Regions from separate parts of the Homo sapiens genome. Here region 2 is linked to region 1. Evidence: fine-mapped expression QTL. A gene starts in region 1. The other region holds a variant in brackets. All regions are shown on one strand. Distances are between the middles of the regions.

Region 1 (3,017 bases):
TGCAGAGGTCAAGTTTACTGAAGATGAGATCAAGGAGCAAAGAGGTCAGGGTATGGGATAAGTCATGCTCGTAGATATTGAAGTATTTCAGGATTATTGGCTGAAGACCGTGCACCAAGTGTTAACAATTTCAATGAATGACACGGTAGAAATAGGGGTACGGTAGATAAAAAGCCACGAGATAGAGAGGGGTATAATCTGATGGAACCAACTTCCACAGAGGTTTTTTTTTTTTTTTTTTTTTTTTTTGGAAAAGGGTGGCAAATTAGGGATCTAAGAAGGTGACCTCAAAACTTAACCCTGGGATATGTTTAGTGTGGGAGAATAAACTTACAATCTTTTAAGAGAGCAAGGGGCCATGCACTGTGGTTAATGCATGTAATACCAGCACTTTAGGAGGCCGAGGTAGGAGTATAGCTTGAGCCCAGGAGACCAGCCTGGGCAACATAGTGAAATCTCAGCTCTACAAAAAAAAAATTAGCTGGGCGTGGTAGCGCGGACCCGTGGTACCAGCTCCAGCTACACCGGAGACTGAGGCAGGAGGATCGCTTGAGCCTGGGAGTGTCAAGGCTGCAGTGAGCCGTGATCGTGCCCCCGCACTCCAGCCTGAGCGACAGAGCGAGACTTTGTCTCAAAAAAGCCACAAAACCAAAGAAACAAAAAGAACTGCAAGGGAAGTACTGTCTTCAGTGTAGAGCCAAGTTTTACGATTAAATGACATAACACATGCAAGGTCCTTGGTTCCACATAGTGGGCACTCAACGAATATTAGTTCTCGCTAAACAGTCACTTAAATATTTGTAGGCCTTGGCTTTCCCGTTCCTTCCCCGACCTTTTTACTGGGGCTAGGGAAGGTATCCGGTGGCTGGAGGCGCTTCACACTGGGTCGGGTGAGAGCGTGAAGCGAGCCTTTTCCCTAACGTCACGGGAGCAGCTGGGAAGAGACCGAAGAACGAGGGTCACTCTCCCCTGTATACGTGGCATGTCCTTCCTCTGAGACATTTATTCCTCCCACCAACAAACATTAATGGAACGCCTCACAAGTGCTAGACCCCAGCGACACAAACAAGGGCGAGGCACACTCTCTGACTACAAAAAGGGCGCGCGGCCGCGTGGCAGGTCAAAGCCCACATCGGTAGGAGGTTCCACAAAGCTCTGATTTTCCAAGTTCTCTCCATACTTTTAGCCAAGGTAAAATGTCGGAAGTCGAGTGGAGCGGGTACGGAGATTCCTCCAGGACTCTGCCTGCGTGGCTCCACCCTCCCAGGCCGCATTCCCGGGTACAGCGGCGCCCACCTAGGTGGGTATACAAGTGTGCGCCCCTGAGGCCAGCGGGGAAGGACGTCATGGGCGAGGTCAGGCGGGAGGGCGCGGCTGGCTCCGCCCCTGGGGCTCCCATGGCCCCCCGCGCCCCGCGGCCAGATGCTGACGTGTCCTTTCCTTCCCACTACACCTCCCGACATTACCTACTCCGGCTGCCCCGGAAGTCCCGCCCCATATTTAGCCCATCCTTGCAAATCAACTCTTTCAGCGCTTCCTGGAACTCACCACCGTTTTGGGGACCAAGAGGCGGGGCTCCGCGAGCAGGGTGCCTATTGGCCTGAGGGCCGGCGGGCTCTGGGCGCTAATTGGGCGGAGGGCGGTGGCGCTCTGGCACGCTTGCGCGGCGAGTAGAACGTGTGGCGGCGGCGGAGATCGCGTCTCTTTCGCTCCGTGTCCCGCTGCTGCTCCTGTGAGCGCCCGGCGAGTCCGTCCCGTCCACCGTCCGCAGCTGGTAGCCAGCCTGCCCCTCGCCTCGACTCCCTTTCACCAACACCGACACCCACATTGACACCTCCAGTCCGGCCAGCCGCTCCACTCGTTGCCTTTGCATCTCCACACATGGCGTCCTCCGCGCAGAGCGGCGGCTCCTCCGGGGGACCCGCGGTCCCCACCGTGCAGCGGGGCATCATCAAGATGGTGAGAACGGGCCCCGGACACCGACCCCTCTGCCTGCCTTCGGGCGGGAGTCAGGCATTGACTCCACCTTCCGCCAGCCTGCTCCATGTCCCAGATCCCCTTTCCTCTGCCCCCTTCCTCACTTTTCGTCGATTCTCCGAATCCTCTCACTAGACGGAAGCAGACACGGAGTCCCCTTGTTCCTTGCCTCCCGGACACCTTGACATCAGGGGTCACAGTGATTTCCGAGGTTGCGGCATTCGGATCTCCTGTCTGTTTACCAGGACAGATCGATTACTGATTGATTAACAGAGACAATTCGTTGATATCTGTCCTCCCATCCCCCGTCTTTCTGTTCATTTTGACATATGCTGAGTAGTTAGTAGTTTTTCGAGATCCTGACATCGGCTCTTCTCTACTAGTACTTGGCCATCATGAAACTTTTCTGTTCCCACAAACGCTGTTACTTGACTCCCAAGTTTTCTCACTCTGTGGCCCTCTTTTCCTCTCTTTCCCTCCACCTCTTGTGTCGACCTGAAAGCTCCTGATCTTTGTGTACTTTTGACTTCTAAAAGGTTAGGCCGGCAAGAATCTTAGTAATCATCATTGTTCTCCCGTCCCTTAAAGATAAGGAGATAGGCTTGAAGAAGGCAAGTGACTTGCTTAAGGTCACATGGTGGTTTGGGTTGGAGCCATAGCAAGAGCCCAAGTGTTCGGATTCCTGGTCTAGTGCTCATAGCACTATAGATTCTGCCTGATTTTATATACCCTCAACTTTTTGAAAATTCTTCAATTTTGAATTTGAACCTGCAAAGTTTATTTTTACAATTTACTCCTAGCTCCATGATAATTTGATAATATAAATTCAGTTTATCACTTGCCCCCAGTTGTCCTCCCCAAAACCCTTCCAAATCTTGGAACCTGACATTTCTTGGTTTTACCAATTTTCTGGTTTATGATGACTGTAAACTTCTAGATGTCGTTTCATACTGCAGTTCTGACATTTGTATCTGCAACAGCAAATATCTTTTGTGATACTTTCTCCCAAGGCTCCACAAGTTTTGCTGTTGTAGAAAGTT
Region 2 (2,500 bases), 320 kb after region 1:
TCTCTGGGAGTGCTACTGTCTTCCAGCAAGCTAGGTGGCTTCTTCACTTACATAAGATGTGTGTGTTCTGGCAGGGAAGAGCTGCCTGAGTGAGTGTTTAGCAAAAATGATTTGTGTGGAGTTATTTTGAGACCCCAGGGAAGGGAATGGCAGCCAAAGCCTGCAGTATTTTAAACCACATCACTCATCCACAAAGATTTAATACGATACAGCATCTCAGCTAGAATATTGGTGAAGAGAAGTAAGAATGTTAGGGTCCCATCAGATTATAAATGCCCGTTATCTCCATCCACGCAAGGTGAATTTGGAGTGGTTTGGATCAAACTTGGTACTTGAAGATTCGTTCATGCTCCTTCTTTGATCTTGTCTGCCCTGGAAATACCAAATAGAAGACAGAGTTGCTTGCTGGGGGGTTGGCCTGGGCTCCCTTTGGAGCAGCGATTTCATTGCCCTCTCTCATTCACTACCTCGGGAGCCATTTGGTTTCCAAGGAGATACAGAAATGAGCCCACTTTTTATGCCGGTCCAAAATACTGACATTATTTAGGTGATTGAGCTTCTTCAGATTCCAGGCTGTCTAGGAGAATTCCCCTTCCAAAGCATTCACCTTTCCTCCTGACTCAGGCATGAACAGCTGTCTGCTAAGGGTGGGTGAATTCAAGAATATAGGATTTTCCAGTTTAGTGACATTAGGGGAGACAGCCTCCATATGAAACACTTCTCTTGTTTTTGTTTTTCTCTTGGCTGTTAGGCTGTGAAATTTGCCTCACCGCTCCCCCGCCCTTTTGCTGACAGCTGTCCTCTTTGCCATTCAGGAGCTGGTGTCTCCCTAGGATGGTTGACTGAGAAAGAAAAGGCCATCTTCCTTTGTCCCCTGGGTCTTGAGTTGTATTGCTGAAGAGCATCTTGTGTCAGGAGATCTAATTGCCTTCAGACCTGGGGGGATCCATTTGGGCCAGAGAGTGTCCAGGCACTTTGTGAATTGCAGAGGGAGTTACCCAAAGAGAAAAAGCCCTATTTGTGACTGGCCACTTGATTTTGTTTGTTTTGTTTTATATTTTTAGAGGACATACAATTTCTTTAATGATAAAAACTATGAAAACCAAAATACATTGTTACACAAAAGAGGCACACACAAACCATACAGCTTTTCAGACTCCCCAAATTTCCCTACAAGGACGTGCAGCGCATCGTTTTTCCATTAATTTAGGTGTTTTTGAGCAGGCCACTTGTTTACACCCCAGTATTGAGTTGAGTGTAGTAGGGAGACACTCAGGAGAAGCATTACTTGTGTTTGTATGTGTGGGCGCGCGCGCATGTGCGCACGCGCGTGTGTATGTGAGAGATTGACTCCCCTCGTGTGTGTGTGTGTGTGTGTAAGAGAGATTGACTCCCCT[CGTGTGTGTGT/C]GTGTGTGTGTGTGTGTGTGTGTGTAAGAGAGATTGACTCCCCTCTGCTTGCACCCCAGAGCAGCCAGCAATCAGAGTAAAAGGCTTCAGCTAAGTTTCTTTCTGCTTGTGATACTACACAAGAATGGCCTGACAGAGAGCAGGATTAAGATATGGTGGAGAGGGAACAAGGAACCAAAGTGAGTGAAAAGGCACAAACAAGCCAGCATCTACCAAAGTCGGCAGGATGGACAAAGGGAGCAGAGCAGGCAGCCAGCCTGGGGCTTTGGAAGACATGTGAAGGGTGTGAGGCTGGCAGATCACTACAGAAGGGGTGGCTCCTCTCTTTTGCCCTGGCATGAGACTTTCTTCTGTGCGCTGTAGCGCCGAGCACGCTACCCCGTTCTTCTCTCTGCTCCACTCCACTCTGACACCCCCACAGAGGTGCTCATGGCTGTTAGTAGGCAGGTCCGGCTCCATTCAGCATTCTTCCTACGTTCTTCCCAAATACCAGTTTCTGATTTGGGTCATTGTGACAGTTGCTATGTCCCACCATGGGCTTATACATGAGAGTTCAGCCCTCAGAGATGGCCACTGTGGTTTCCTTAGCCCCTCCTCCACCCTGTTCTCCTTTCCTCTCTTATTCCCCACCCTATTTCCTTGGGTGAGTGAGCACAGACAAGTGCACAAGCTCACACACACCCCTTGGCTGTCACAGGCACCAGGAACCCTGGTCGGGGAATGTGCTTTGTGGAGAGCTGTGTTCAGGAAGTTTACTCCTCCTCTCCGTAATCAGTCCTCGCCACTCCCTCCCCTGCCCCACCCTTATTAGAAATCCTGATTTCTGGCAAGCTTCCCATCCTGGTGCTGTCCTTCTTTTGTGCGGAGCACACTGGAGCAGCTTTCCTCTCCCTGGAAGACAGGCACAGCCTGATGGCACAAGTTAATACCTCCTGCATGGCTGCAAAAATAAAGACCAGATGCGGGTCTGTTGGGTACCTGATTTTCTCCCTCACTGCCCTCCTTCTTTTCAACTGAAGCTTTGTGTCCAGCATGACAGTTGAAATCCTGGTGCTTTGGTGCACTGTTGCCACACTGTGACAGGGGCTAAAAA

Alleles and levels. Alleles are on the strand shown, and positions count from the first base shown. SD is a standard deviation of normalised expression in the study named.
For the expression in monocytes of the gene that starts at base 1,702 in region 1, allele CGTGTGTGTGT in region 2 goes with a higher level than allele C (moderate effect, 0.55 SD a copy in BLUEPRINT).

Evidence for each region.
Region 2: its variant is fine-mapped to the expression of SND1 in monocytes (BLUEPRINT, PIP 0.95).

What each region holds. Positions count from the first base shown.
Region 1 is chr7:127,650,493-127,653,509 of GRCh38, forward strand. SND1 (staphylococcal nuclease and tudor domain containing 1) reads left to right here and starts at 1,702. Exons shown (of 24, transcript NM_014390.4): 1 at 1,702-1,959. The coding sequence starts at 1,882. It overlaps SND1-DT (SND1 divergent transcript), which reads right to left and starts at 1,340. Exons shown (of 2, transcript NR_186577.1): 1 at 1,181-1,340. RefSeq lists a silencer at 1,251-1,500 and enhancers at 1,298-1,916, 1,741-1,920.
Region 2 is chr7:127,974,027-127,976,526 of GRCh38, forward strand. The region is part of intron 15 of SND1 (staphylococcal nuclease and tudor domain containing 1); the gene reads left to right. Among named protein-coding and RNA genes, the nearest start is that of SND1-IT1, 22 kb to the right of the region's middle. The variant CGTGTGTGTGT/C (reference allele first, on the strand shown) is at 1,398.